Homo sapiens: one gene and its partner. The protein of the gene in region 2 purifies or fractionates together with the protein of the main gene of each other region. This does not show direct contact. Each region holds a gene or a part of one and is shown on either strand. Other genes may lie near its edges. The genes, in order: ALDH1A3 and SMOX.

Evidence for each region.
Region 1: the proteins of SMOX (region 2) and ALDH1A3 purify together in Homo sapiens (affinity purification with mass spectrometry; 2 studies listed by BioGRID and IntAct, with this or other methods). This does not show direct contact.

The regions. Positions count from the first base shown.
Region 1 is NC_000015.10:100,903,794-100,911,061, reverse strand, and holds part of ALDH1A3 (retinaldehyde dehydrogenase 3), read right to left. Parts: intron 5,540-7,268; coding exon 5,375-5,539; intron 3,942-5,374; coding exon 3,784-3,941; intron 2,655-3,783; coding exon 2,580-2,654; intron 1-2,579. UniProt on the Homo sapiens protein: Catalyzes the NAD-dependent oxidation of aldehyde substrates, such as all-trans-retinal and all-trans-13,14-dihydroretinal, to their corresponding carboxylic acids, all-trans-retinoate and all-trans-13,14-dihydroretinoate, respectively.
Region 2 is NC_000020.11:4,151,722-4,158,989, reverse strand, and holds part of SMOX (spermine oxidase), read right to left. Parts: intron 3,775-7,268; exon of another isoform or gene 3,524-3,774; intron 428-3,523; exon of another isoform or gene 1-427. UniProt on the Homo sapiens protein: Flavoenzyme which catalyzes the oxidation of spermine to spermidine. Can also use N(1)-acetylspermine and spermidine as substrates, with different affinity depending on the isoform (isozyme) and on the experimental conditions.

The DNA of each region.
Region 1 (7,268 bases), on a different chromosome or scaffold from region 2:
CAAAAAAGTCCCGATGGAGGCTAACTGGCAGGAGGACACATGGGCTGTGTCCAGTGAGTCCTCACCAAGCCCTGCTCTGTGCCAGGCGAGGGGGTGTTAAGGAGCCAAAAGCACTGTTAGGGTGGCAAGAGGGAAGGTTGCAATGAGGGTGAATCACCAGTGCAAAGCAGTACACACCAGGGATTGGGGGCCCTGCAGCTTCTACGCCCAGGGACATTTGCTTCGGGGACTGGAGTCCTTGCTGTGGCGTGAGGCTGTGTCTGGCGTCTGGGAGGAGGACTGTGTGGGGTCTGGGTTCCCCAGCCCTAATGACCCAGCTGGTTGAAGGCAGCAGATGAAAGGAGACAAATGACCACGCAAACCCTGGGTGGCCTCATGAACAGGTGGCGGACAAGGGTGATCCCTGTTGAGCAAGGTCCTGCACTGCGGTGGGTCCAAGGACTAAGCTGCCAGCATTCATTTCTGACTGTCACTTACCAGCTTCCTGTGCCATTTTCTCATCTGAAAACAGCTGGACCCATCTCATGGATGGGCGTGAGGATGGTATGAAGGAACAGGCATAGAGAGCTCAACCGAGCCTGCTGCAGAGTCTGTGCTCAGCAAATCCCAGCTGTTGCCAGTACTGTTGCTGTTGGAGGGCCCAAGAGGGGACCCTGGTGACCCCAGCCCTGGCTGCCTGTCCCTGGAGGGGCAGGTGTAAGAAGTGATGAAGCAGGGGCTCACAGAACTCAAATGCAAACAGGCCACTAGAGGGAGGAAATGCAATTTCTGCAAAGGGGTTTCATGGCCAACAATTACTGATGTCCGCTGAAGGCGAAGCCAGCCACAGGGATAAGGGGGAAGGCTAATGGACAGGCTTCACTCACAAGTGCAGACGCCTTGGAGTATTTGCTGAGAGTCAGGGATGGACTACAAAGCAGGACTGAGGTGGGAGGGGGACAGGACCCCAATTCCACATAGACTGGTCAAGAACATCTGTTTGGGGATGGAAGCCAGGCCCATCCCTTCACAGCATCTTTAAGAATCTCAAAAGAGAGCCACACAAAGGCCCCAACCAAGGCCCAAGGTGAGGGGAAGCGTTTGAGTCTGTTCCCGCTGGAAGAAGTGCAAACAAGGGACTACATTTGTATATAAATAGGACAGACTAGTGAAATAAAAGGAAGAGTTTGGGTCCCTAGAGATGTCCCAGGAACCTGGGGTGTTGTCACAGATGGTTCCTTGGGAACACTGATCCTACAAAATGTTTGTCCACACAGGCTAATAAAATCCTGAGCTGGGGAGAGAAGACAGTGTCCGGCTGGAAACCACACATCTCCACTCCCGGGTTGCTCTAGCCAGCTCTGGGTGTGGGCCAGACGCAAGAAGTTCCACCCATTAATCTAAACCTAGGGAACTCATTTTCCCAGCAGGCAGGACAAAAAAGGAAGTGTGGAGGGGTTTGCACACACAGTGGAGGGGTTTGCAGTGGGTTTGCACACACACGAAGGGGTTTGCAGTGGGTTTACACACACGGAGGAGTTTGCACACACATGTGGAGGGGTTTGCAGTGGGTTTGCACACACTGGGGTTTGCAGTGGGTTCACACACTGAGGAGTTTGCACACACATGTGGAGGGGTTTGCAGTGGGTTTGCACACACAGTGGAGGGGTTTCCAGTGGGTTTGCACACACACAAAGGGGTTTGCAGTGGGTTTACATGCACACGTGGAGGGTTTGCAGTGGGTTTACACACACGGAGGAGTTTGCAGTGGGTTCACACACTGAGGAGTTTGCACACACATGTGGAGGGGTTTGCAGTGGGTTTGCACACACACGGAGGGGTTTGCAGTGGGTTTACATGCACACGTGGAGGGTTTGCAGTGGGTTTACACACACGGAGGAGTTTGCAGTGGGTTCACACACTGAGGAGTTTGCACACACATGTGGAGGGGTTTGCAGTGGGTTTGCACACGCACGGAGGGGTTTGCAGTGGGTTTACATGCACGCGTGGAGGGTTTGCAGTGGGTTTGCACGCGCATGGAGGGGTTTGCAGTGGGTTTGCACACGCATGTGGAGGGATTTGCAGTAGGCTTGCATATACTGAGAGGGCCGCAGAGGCCCAGCAGGAGGTGTTGTCATATGCCTCCTGGGAGGAGGTCCCCTACTAGGCTCAGAAAAAAGGACCCAGCAGGTAGGAGCCTTACCTGGGTCAGCCTTACCTGTCTTCACTGCTGTGAGTGGGGAGTTGTGTGAATAATGACACCCCACATCTGGCAAAAGTACACTTTTTCAGTTCTGCCTGTGTCCCCGTCCAGGGAGCTTTTGTCAAATATCCACTGAATGTCCCCAGCATGATGGCTGCTGGGCAGACACAAAAGCCGAGGCCTGGAGGGGGGCAGGCTGAGGATGTAAGTGGGAAGGGTGGGCTGGAGAGAGGAAGGGATGGGTCCCCACCAACCCTAGAGGGACACAGCTGGCCCAGACAGAGCGGCGGTGTGGGGGGGACGGGGTGTCAGCAGATTGGAGCCTGTGTCACTGCCTGCAAATCTAGTGGATCTAGTGTTCAGCCCACGGCAGGCTCAGAATGATGGAAACACTTACAGTTCTCTGCCATTTCCTGACATTTTAAAGCCACCAAATGGAGCCTGTGCATAGAGGGCGTTGTAGCAGTTGATCCTAGAAAAGAATGGAAGAAAGCTCAGAGTCATCTGGAGAAGACCCCCTGGCTCCTGGCACTGCAGCCACTTAGCCCCCAGTGCAGGGCATTGTCTAATAAACAGTCTTTTGCCAAAGCTTCCTTGATGAAAACACAGGGTGCTCTCAACTTTTGTCTTCTCATTCTTCTCATCAGCAACTAAAATTTGGAAATCCTCAAGTACAGAGTGTGTTTCATTGGGATAGGAATGAAATGATAAGGGGAGAAAAAAGAAGAGAGGGCCAGGCATGATGACTTATGCCTGTAATCCCAGCACTTCGGGAGGCTGAGATGGATGGATCACCTGAGGTCAGGAGTTCAAGACTAGCCTGACCAACATGGTGAAACCCCATCTCTACTAAAAATACAAAAATTAGCTGGGCGTGGTGGCGTGCACCTGTAGTCCCAGCTACTGGGGAGGCTGAGGCAGGAGAATTGCTTGAACCTGGGAGGTGGAGGTTGCAGTGAGCCGAGAGTGTGCCACTGCACTCCTGCCTGGGGGAAAGAGCAAGACTCCATCTCAAAAAAAAAAAAAAAAAAAAAAGAAAGAAAGAAAGAAAAAGAAAAATCAGGGTGTAGAGGAATAAGAATTAGCTTTGAAATGAGACAGAACTGACCCCAAAGTTCTCCTGCTTCCTGGTTATATGATTCTGGGCTTATTGCTCAACCTCTCTGAGCCTCAATTCATTAATCTTTAATATGGGGATCACAAAACATAATCTGCAGAATTACTGATGAGGCAGAGACTAGTATCCACATTTTGCAGATGGGCATGAACTGCTTTTAGAATCAGAATGGAAAATAAAGTTGGAGGGGCAGTACAGCACAGGGGCCACAGGCACAGGTACTGGAGCCCTCTCGGCCATCTGCTAGCTGTGTGACCCTGGGCAAGTCACTTCATCTCTCTGTGCCTCAATTTTCTCATCTCTGAAATGGAGACATAATGGCAGCTACCTCAGAAGATGGTCATGAGGATGGAAGGAAGCACTGAGACAGGGCTTGGTATATAATATACAATGTAAACAATGAGAAACTCTCAGTTAATAGAAGAATAATGAACTTAGCAAGAAGCAACTCAGGAGAGCTGAAATACACACACAGTCAACTCACCAGACCGTTCCAGACTCTAAGGCAGAAGCCAACTTCAGGGCTTTGTCGAGATTTTTTGTGAACACGGCTGCTGTGAGTCCATAGTCGGTGCTATTCGCTCTTTTTATCACTTCTTCGATACTTTTGAACTTCAGTATTGGTTGCACTGGCCCGAAAATCTATGATTAATTGCAAGAATGGCAATGAGAGGCATGACTGAATGGAAATGCATGCTGTGAACAAGCATTTCCTTCTCTTTACATGTTTTTCATATGCCCAGAGCACACACATGCCTGAAAAACGATGATTAGAGAAGAAAGAACGTCCAAACATTGCTTCAGCTGCATTGCCATTGGAGACTGAAGGGAAGGATTAACATGAAACAAAAATAAAAAATAATAACAAAAAATATATGTTGTGTTTAAGATGTCTTGTTGTCATCAGGGTTTCCGAGAAACCCAGCCAGAGAGCCTTGGAGTAACCCATAGATGCACAGAACACAAAACCTTTAGGTAACTTTTTTCGGAGTTGTCCTGAAGGATATCTGCAGGCACTTTGTAAGACTGTGCTCCTACCTCTTGGAGCTGTGTTTTCTACCAAGGAAGACACCCTAGAACGTTTCCATAATAACTACCAGGGGAAGGAATGACACAATATTCACCACAGTTTGTGACACAGCAAAGAAAAGGAAATGGAAGAACTAAGGCTTGAACATTTAAAGGTGATTTTGAAGGGAGCTTGTAATTGATTCAATATTAGACATAATTATAAGCCGGCAGGATGGTGCCTGGCCTGCCAAAATACCTTCCGGGTTCCCCAGGACCTCTCGTCACAGGGATGTTTAAGGAGCTGAGCTTCATGCCATCACGGCACATAACAATCTCAAGGAAGACGCCTCTGAAATACCTGCCCCAGAAAGCCCTTGGCAGGGACTCATCCTTTTATGTGCCCCAAAATACCACCTCCAGGGTCTAACCTCCTGGGATCCAGCTCTCCTCTTACAAATGCTGTGTGGGAACCAGTTCCCGTCTAGTGTAACAGTGGAGTTGAAAGAGAAAGATTTACACTCTTATGGGAGTGGGGGAGTCTCCTTAATTTCCCTCATTTTCAAGACGTCCGTGGTGGAAAATGTCAATAAAAATTCCAGCTGTGACATGTTCCTTGAGTGAACACTTGAAATTCAGTCTAGGGGCACTGAAGGCGGCTTTGGGCCCTGAATCCACAGGTTCTTGAACTGATTCCTGGCAAAACCCACAGGTGGCAACAGTTCTCCACCTGCGGCTGCATGACTGACTCGGGGACCGGTTGTGTTAGAAAATCAGAGAGGGCTTGCTGCTCCCAGAGAGGGTGAGCCATGAGTGAAAACTAGCTAGAACAAACAAGGTACCTGCTGTATCATGCTTGGAGTTCGCCAGAGGCAGGACAAAACGGCTTCCCTAGGGACCCCAAAGGAGAGGGGAAAGACCACACAGAAAAAACAACAACGACAACAACAGCAACAAAAACAAAAAAACACTCAGATCACAAGGATTTCTGGGATCCCTGGGCCCTAGGGAAGGACTCGTGTTTGAAAGGCCCCGCAAGTCGTAGCCTTGCCACAGCCCCCTTGTACCTCCTCTTTGGCAATCCGCATGTTGTCTGTGACTTCTGAGAAGACAGTGGGTTTGATGAAGAGCCCCTTGTCTTCCATGGCTGAGCCCCCGCATTCCAGCTTGGCCCCTTCCTTCTTCCCACTCTCGATCAGCTCTAAGATTTTGTCGAACTGCTTTTGATCAATCTGCAAGACACAAACAAGAAGTACAGCCTGGCTTCCTTCTGGGCAGTGGCTGCCATCTCATGTTTTCAGTGGCCTTCAACATGATCAGCCATCCTCCCTCTGCATGTTCTTGTCAAGCCATGATCCATGTAACTAATGAGCCTTGCAGGCAAATATTCCTCTGATGCACAGAGCTGGGCTCTTTGGAGCAGGGGAGAGATGGGGAGATAGACTAGTCTCATCCTCTGGAGGTTTGGGACATATTTACACTTCTATCTCCCTTTTCCATGCAGCAAAGTTAGTCCATGAGTGACACAGGTCTGAAGTGGTCACAGTCTTTCTTCTCCCAACTCTTTACATTCTACTCAGGTTGCCAAATTTAGCAAATAAAAATACGGGATGCCCAGTGAATCTGAATTTCAGAAAAATGACACATAATTTTTTTTAGTATGTCCCAAAACAATATTTGGGATATACTTAAGCTAAAAGTGCATTTACTGTTTATCTGAAATTCATGTTTACCTGGGTGCCATGTATCACCTGGCAACCCTGTGCCCTGCTCAGTTGGCACCGTGAATCAGGGTAATAGTTACTGGAATTCTCCTGTCATGGTGCAGAGAAGCGAGAAGAAAAGCTAACCACCTTACTCAACACCCCTGGGGACAAAGCAGAATGAGCCTCCAGGTGGGGTGGCAGGGCTGCTCCTTGGTTGGTGGTGGGAACAGCTCATGAGAAAGACTCTCCCTTTTGCTATCTTGTCTAGACGTCTCCTTGGCTGGAGTTTGCCCTGTGCCACCAGCCTGACCCACAGCTTGTGAACACGCTACTGAGCAGTTGTCAAAAGCGCACCCTTTTGGGAGACTGCTCAAGAGGGAAAATGCTCTTTCTGCCCCCTCCACTGGTCCTTCTTCCTGAAATCTATGGGAATCTTGTCCTTTATCATGATCTGTGGCTGGTCTCCCTCCTCTTTGGCTGGGAGAGACAAAGCTTTACTAGGTTTACTTTAGCTGGGATTTTTAGATGGGAAAACTGGTTTCATTCCAATGATCATAAACAGAAAAAGAAGCAAACCCAGTGGTGCAATTGGATGACGGTCTGTCCTGGAGGAGCAGGAGAGAGGGCATAAACCGTGCATGCCACTTGACCAATCATCTCATGAAATATGGACCCAGTTTAAAAATACTAACTCAGATCCATACCTCACACTTTATACCAGGCCAAACTCCAAACCCAGTTTAAAAATACTGACTCAGATCCATACCTCACACCTTATACCAGGCCAAACTCCAAACCCAGTTTAAAAATACTAACTCAGATCCATACCTCACACCTTATACCAGGCCAAACTCCAAACCCAGTTTAAAAATACTAACTCAGATCCATACCTCACACTTTATACCAGGCCAAACTCCAAATAGATCAAAGATATAACCAGGAAAAACAAAACCATAAAAGTTTTATATGTGGGAGACTTATCCTGCAAACTTGGAGTGCCTTCTAATGACTCAAAATGCAGAAGCCAAAAAAGAAAAGATGTATAATTTTGAGTATGTAAAAAAAATGGGGTGGGGGCAAAATTATCATAACAAAGAGCAAAACAACAAACTTGGAAAAAATATTAACAAGTCATATTCATAGAAAGCTAATCTCTCTACTATGTATGTAAAGAGGTCTTAGAAGTGATAAGAAAAATGCCTAACAGCTTGCAAGAAAAATACGCAAAGCACATTTGATAATAAAGGAAATACAA
Region 2 (7,268 bases):
GTCCCTGTGTGTTTAACATTTAAAGGCATCATTTAAAAATATTTCCTAAGAATATATGCCCCTTGGTGGTGCTGGGTGTCTCCTGCTTGAGTCATCCTAAAATCTAGCCAACTCAGCCTGCAAGGAGTATCACCACCACCCGCCAGGATCAGAGGTGCGCTGGCTGAGCTGGGCTGTCCCGGAGATCTGGTTATGGGTGGGGAGCAGTTGAAGGTATGAGGACAGGCTCTGAGAGAGCCATGGGGTTGACGAAAGGGCATCGAGACAGATGTCCCAGAAACTGAGTGAGACCCATCATGCCTCACTCAGGCCCCCGGGGCTGCATGGGGAAGACAGGACCCATGTGTCTGCCAGGGCCTAGCACAGAGTTGGCAGGGGTGGCTAGATTCTTTGTTCTGTTTTCTAATAAATTGCAACTCACTTCCAAGTTCTTGTTCTTCTGACTTTAAGTCACACCTTCCTTAATGCCGTCCCTCAAGAAGCAGGTGGAGAAGAAGGGAATCTGGACTAAGGGGTGCTGCAATGCCCCCAGCTAGGCCACCATGCTCCACCTGAATCCAGATGCTTTTCCTCATCCTCCAACCTCCCAGCCCCAGATTTAGAGAGCACTGGGCTCCTACATGCTTGAGGAAGAAAGACAAAGGGGCAAAGGAGGACAAGAGAGGGGAGCTAGGGCTGGGTAGGAAAATCCACTGAGCATGCCCCACCAGGGCCTTCGGGTCAGGTCGGAGGGCCAATGTTGCCCCACGCACCACCGTAGCTCCTCCTGGGTATTTAAAATACCACACCCCGACCGGCGCTGTGGCTCACACCTGTCATCCCAGCACTTTGGGAGGCCAAGGCGGGCGGATCACGAGGTCAGGAGATCGAGACCATCCTGGCTAACAAGGTGAAACACCATCTCTACTAAAAATACAAAAAATTAGCCGGGCGTGGTGGCGGGCGCCTGTAGTCCCAGCTACTCGGGAGGCTGAGGCAGGAGAATGGCGTGAACCCGGGAGGCGGAGGTTGCAGTGAGCCGAGATCGCGCCGCTGCACTCCAGCCTGGGCGACAGAGCGAGACTCCAACTCAAAAAAAATAAAAAATAAAAAATACCACAGCCCATCTCCCCCACCTGAGCTGCTGAACAAAGAGCCTCACACCACAGAGGAAAGGAGGTGTGGCAGAGGCGAGGCAGGGTAGCCTCACTGACTGCCCTGAGAGTCTGAGAATGAGGGTCACGTCCGCAACTTGGCCCCTCCCCCAGCTTCATGTCCATGAAGGGGCACAGCACCGCCCCCTCCCACAGCCCACCATCACTCACACCCTGCCTCATGTCTCACTAATGCACTGCTCTGATCACATCACTGCCCTGCTCAAAACCTTCTGTGGGCTGCCACAGCCCAGTGAACGAAGGTAGTCCCTGATGCCTCCTCCCTGCCCGCAGGCCACTTGTCCCCTACACACACCCACCAGGATCCTCTGACTCTCAGACTCAAACCTGTGACTTCTCATTCTGTCCAGATCTCCCCACCTAACTGGCCATTCCTCCAGGAAGCCAGTCCTGCTAGCTACCCACACCCTCTTTCTTCTCCTCTGCAGGCTACTCTGGTCTAACCAGGACCCCAACCTAAGCCTTGTGCCGCTTTCTGCTGGCTCTTGCTTTCTTCCCTCATGTCCACGATGACAGGGCCCTCCCCAGGGTCCCTCCTCCAGCCATGTCAAATCCAGTAGTAAGAGCAGCCAACCGGTATTAGAGTGTCACAACAACCCAGCCACCCTAGGAGGGAGGTAATATTACCCTCATGGTACAAATGAGGGAACGGAGGCACAGAGAGGCTTAGCTTATTGTCCAGAGTTCACAACCCTGCTGTGTTAACCTCTGAGATGAAAGGCTGGGGAGAACTTGCAAAGCGAGGAAATGCCCGGGAGGTATAAGGAAAAGGCCCTCTCAGAATCCAGAAGATGGCCGGGCACAGCGGCTCACATCTGTAATCCTAGCACTTTGGGAGGCCAAGGTGAGCAGATCACCTGAGGCCAGGAGTTCCAGACCAGCCTGGGCAACACGGTGAAACCCCACCTCTACTAAAAACACAAAAATTAGCAGGGCGTGGTGGTGAGCGCCTGTAATCCCAGCTACTCGGGAGGCTGAGGCAAGAGAATTGCTTGAACCCAGGAGGTGGAGGTTGCAATGAGCTGAGATTGCGCCACTGCACTCCAGCCTGCGTGACAGAGTGAGGCTCCATCTCAAAAAAAAGAAAAAGAATCCAGAAGACCCAGGCCCAGCTACCTGGGGATCCCAGGCACCAGACAGGTCCTTCCAGATCCTTCCTCATTCACCCAGTGAGGCAGAGCCATTGCCACAAGAACCCAGGGCTGGCTCTCGGCCCAGAAATACCAGGGAGAAAAGGAAGGATGGCAGGGAGCTTCCTGGTAGAGGTGGGATGGGCACATCTGAGGGCCCTGGTCAGTTGAGGTCCCACCAGGCACTGGCAGGGGGGTAGCAGTTGCTACACCCAAAGGAAGGTGGGGAGGCAGACATGGGGGGCAAAGATTTACAGATGAAGAAACTGAGGCCTCAGAGGGGAGCCTGGCATCTCTCTCTCTGCAGTGCCCTCTTCTTCTACTGATTGTCCAAATGTGCCCATCCCACCAAGTCTACCTCTACCAGGAAGTCCACCTGTGCTACCATGTTCGTGGCCTTCCAGTGAGCAGCATCTTTCCACATCAGCTTTTCCCAGCAGGTGTTTTCCTGGTGGGTGGGACATTATTGGCAGTCATTTAAAAAAAAGATTTCCACGGTCAGATCAGGCTGGGAAACACTAAACAGTTTCTTTTCTACAGGACTTGTCAGGACCTTTAATTCTCTTAAATGTATTCTGAATCTCCCGTAGGGTAGTGGAGTGAATTTGCCAGTTTCTACCCTTATTTGTCCCCTGAACGCTTGAGATTGCGCAGAACAGTCTTTGAGAAATGTTATCCCCTCCCATCCCGCAGGACGGCCTGGCCCAGGGGCAGGGATCAAAGTGGGGTGTGATTGGCTTGGCCTTGCCCTCCTTTGAGGAGGTGTGTGTGGGATATCTGGGGAGCTCAGACTGAGAGCCAGTCAACCCCTACCCTGCCAGCCCCTCATGGCACTGCCCAGGGCAGTGGAACCTTTGCCCTTTGTGTCTGCCCTCTGTACCTTCTTTTGGGTGTAGTGACTGCTACCCCGCTTCCAGCAACTGGGGGGACTCAACCCACCAGTGTCCTCAGATACGCACCCCAGGCCATGTAGAGCCTGAGGTGCAAGGGGCCTTGGGAGACCCCCAAAACAACCCGGATGGTTTTTTCCAAGCAAATTGCTAATTCGACCCCATCATTAGCATGTGAGTTTTAATATTAACTTTAATATTTAATATTAAACTAAAATGTGTTAAGCTGACTCTCTGGGAAGAGGCAATGCCCCACCCAGCAAACCGTGTGATAACCCCCCTGGAGGGACCTGAACCCCTCAGTTTACAGATGAGGAGACTGACACCTCAGAGAGGAGCAGACACTTGCCTGTAGTGGCCCAGCCAGGGCAGAGCAGAGAGAAGCATCCAGGCCCCCCCCACTCCCACGTACGCCGCAGAGGTGGCCAGAGTGGGATAAGACCCCCGACAGCAGCTCATGTAACCATCAGTGACAGCAGCTCACGTAACCATCAGCGGCAGCAACAAGGACTTGGGCCAGGGTGACAGGCACTGCACACGCTGGGGTGATGGCCCGGCAGCTGGGGAGACTACCGTCTTCTATGAGGACACGTCACAGCTGGAGCTAGAGGGCCGGATCAGCTGTTTCCCCAATCTCTCGGCCCCGCCCTGGCTGGAGGAAGGGTGCTCACCCCAGATTGGTTGCCCACAGTGCCAGGCTCGGCTGTGGACAGAGATAAGGTGCCCTCCGTGCTGTCTGCATGTCACCCTGCCCCGGGATACAGTCACCCAAGATACCCCCTCGTGGTCTTGGGAGCTCCTTACAGTCAGAGGCCCTGGAAATCAGACCTATGTTCCTGGTCTATGACCCAAGCACCCAGAGGCCCTCACACAGCCCCAGCTCCCAGCAGAGTGGCCCCTGCATCTCACATCTTCTACAGTCCCCTCTGTCCTGCCCCCAGCCCACCTGCACCACCCCCACCCCCTACCCCGGCAGCTCCCTACACATCCCGCAACACAGGAGCCTCAGGAGCCAAGGTAGTTAGTTCCCTGTTCCACCCACCTGAACTGCACTCGTCCCTCAAGACTCCAGTCTAAATCCTTGCTATACAAAGCGTGCTCCATGGAGCAGCAGCATTGCACTGCCAAGGAGCTTATTAAAAATGCAGTCTCAGGCCAGGCACAGTGGTTCATGCCTGTAATCCCAACACTTTGGGAGGCTGAGGCAGGTGGGTCACTTGAAGCCAGGAGTTCGAGACCAGCCTGACCAATATGGTGAAACCCTGTCTCTACTAAAGATGGTGGTGGGCACCTGTAATCCCAGCTACTGCTACTCAGAAGGCTGAGGCAGGAGAATTGTTTAAATCCAGGAGGCGAAGGTTGCAGTGAGCCGAGATCCTGTCACTGCACTCCAGCTTGGACAACAGAGCAAGACTCCGTCTCAAAAAAAGAAAGAAAGAAAGAAAGAAATGCGGAGTCACAGGCCTCACCCCAGACCTGGTGAATCAGACAGGACAGACATGCATTTTAACAAGCTGCCTAGGTGATCTATGTGCATTCAAGTTTGAAAAGCACTTTTATAGACCACTGCCCTAATCAAGTAATTGCCCCCATGCCCTATAACCTTCAAAGGCTCCCCAGGGTCTACTGAATCAAGGCCAGACTCAGCAGCTTGGCAGCCAAGGCCTTTCCCAACCTGGCTTCAACCCACTTCTCCTCCTCCACCTTAGGAAGGCCATCCTCTCCTCTGTCGGCCAAAGCCGCCCAAGATTTCAGAACCCTCCCAAAGCACCACCTCCTCTGGGAGGAGGACCTCATTATATCACACCTGGCATGGCTCACGTTTATTTCCTGGAGAGCAGGAACCGTGTCCTGTGTTCCCAAAGGCTCTGAACACCAGGCTGGGGCACAGGAGATGCCAGGTGCTGACCACAGCTAACAAGGCCCAGTGTCTACTTGTCAGGAAGTCCACCTCAGCTCTAGCCTGCCCGCCTCAGGCTTGGCCACAGCCTTCACTTCGACTCAGCAGACAAGGACTTGGGCACCGTGGACAGGCCTCCCCCATGCTCCCCTGCCAGAGAAGGGAGCCCTTCCTGACAACCATGAAGGCTGGTGAGCTTCCAACAGCAATGTTTTCCCTGTGCCTCAGTTTCCACTAACCCTGCCTCCCTCTCTTCCTAGGAGGCTGGCAGGATCTGTCCAGATAGATGAGCAGATCCCCTCAACTCTGGGGCTCAGAATTCAGAGAAAACAGACCCCATCCCTGTGTGGTCAGCAAACCGTTCCTCAGCCAGCCAGCCAGGTCCCTGGGAGGCCAGGTCACCTGCCTAGAGTCATCCTCGTGCCAAACAGGAAAGCCTCCCAGGGCAGAGCTGACACACCCTCCTCCCTCCTTCCTGGCCCAGTTCCTCAGCCTGGCATCCCAGGGGAAGCCTTTCCTCCTTTCAGAGTCTACAAGGAGAAGGCACTCAAGCATGTGACCTCCAGGGAGCAAAGAAAAAAAGTCCCTCTAATCCCATTTTACAGGCAGATGACGAGGGCAATGCTAAACCCAGAAGGGTGACATTCTAATGATGGCATCTCAGGCAGAAAGCGGTAGCTGAACCAGAAGCAGCAGACCTTCCCAGCACCCCAAAATCACAGTGTACGTGATGCCCAACCCATTGGCCTGGGTCCGGAGCCCCTCCTGGAAGAAAAAGTGGGGCATGAAGCAGAAAAATTCGGTCACCCACTCCAAGCGAGGACCCCTTCTACCTTCTTTCCCACCTCCCCAGCCCCTAAGGCCAGGCACCTCTGGGAGGCAGGAAAAGCCTCTTCTTAGGAAGCCCTCGGCTGACACATAACTGAGAGGCATGAGAGAAGTGGCAGAGTGGACCGATTTCAAGCATGGATTCTGGAGCCAAGTTGTTTGGATTCAATCCTTACTCTGTTATTATTTAGTTGTATGACTATGACTCAGTCCTCCCGTCTGTAAAATGTTTGGATTCAATCCTCATTCTGTCACTATTTAGCTGTATGACTGTGCCTCAGTCTTCCCAGCTGTAAAATGGGAATAAGACCTACCTTATAGAGCTGTTAAGAGCATTAAAGGAGTTAACATTTGCAAAGTGCTTAGAACAATGCAGGGCATGCAGTGAATATACCAGGGCCCTGCCCTGCCTCTTGGCCTCTGCTTGATTCCTCCCACCCAGGATGCCCTCCTCATCCCTACCTATCCCAGCTCAAGGTCTTTCCTAGGCATGCCAGCCCCATCCCAGATCTGGACCACTGCCCCTAGTTCTAGCACCCACGTCGCGGTGTTACCTCAGTCCACCCCTGTCCCCCTGTCCAGGGGTCAGCTCCCCTCCCTCCCAGATCTGAGGTCCCCTGGCTCTCAGCCTTCCATTCTGAGAGTACCAGCCACACAATTTAACACTCAACTGGCTCCTCTGTGCAAACAGGAGAGCTGTGGGTAGAAAGGCAAGAGTCTAGAGATAGAGAGAGACCACCCCAGGGCTGGGTACCCAGCAGTCACCCAAGAGAGTGGGCTGAAATCAATCCCTGGCTGCCCAGGCTGCCCACATCTTGTGAGCTAGAGAATCTCCCTCCCACCCAACATGCACACATATCCCTCTGCTGACCCAGCTTGCATTTCTACCAAAGAAAGCAAAGGAAATCATTTACCCCAACCACAGTGACACACACACAGACTCACATCCCACCGGCTGCCCTCGGCATACAGCCCTGCCCTCCAGCCACGCATACCTTCTCCACTTCCCTTTTTCACATCCCATTGGCGCCCTTAGATTCTTGCAGCAATCTGCACAGTTGCTTTTGTGGAAAGAAAATAAAAATCCTCAGGGTCACTTGAAGTTTAAAGAGGACTCCTGTGCTCACTGCAATACCCACCTCTCTGCCCAATCCAGCCCCAACCTGCCACCTGGCTGAAGATTTCCTGGGCATCAGCTACATGCCAGGCACTGTGCTAGATGCTCCAGATACAGCACTGGTCCATTCAGTCAAGGTTCCGGCCCTTAAGAAGCCAGATAAGTCAAGTATACAAACAATTGTAACAAATGGTTGTGAACTGTGATAAATATAATATAGAAAATAAGTCAGGTGCTACGATTAATTAC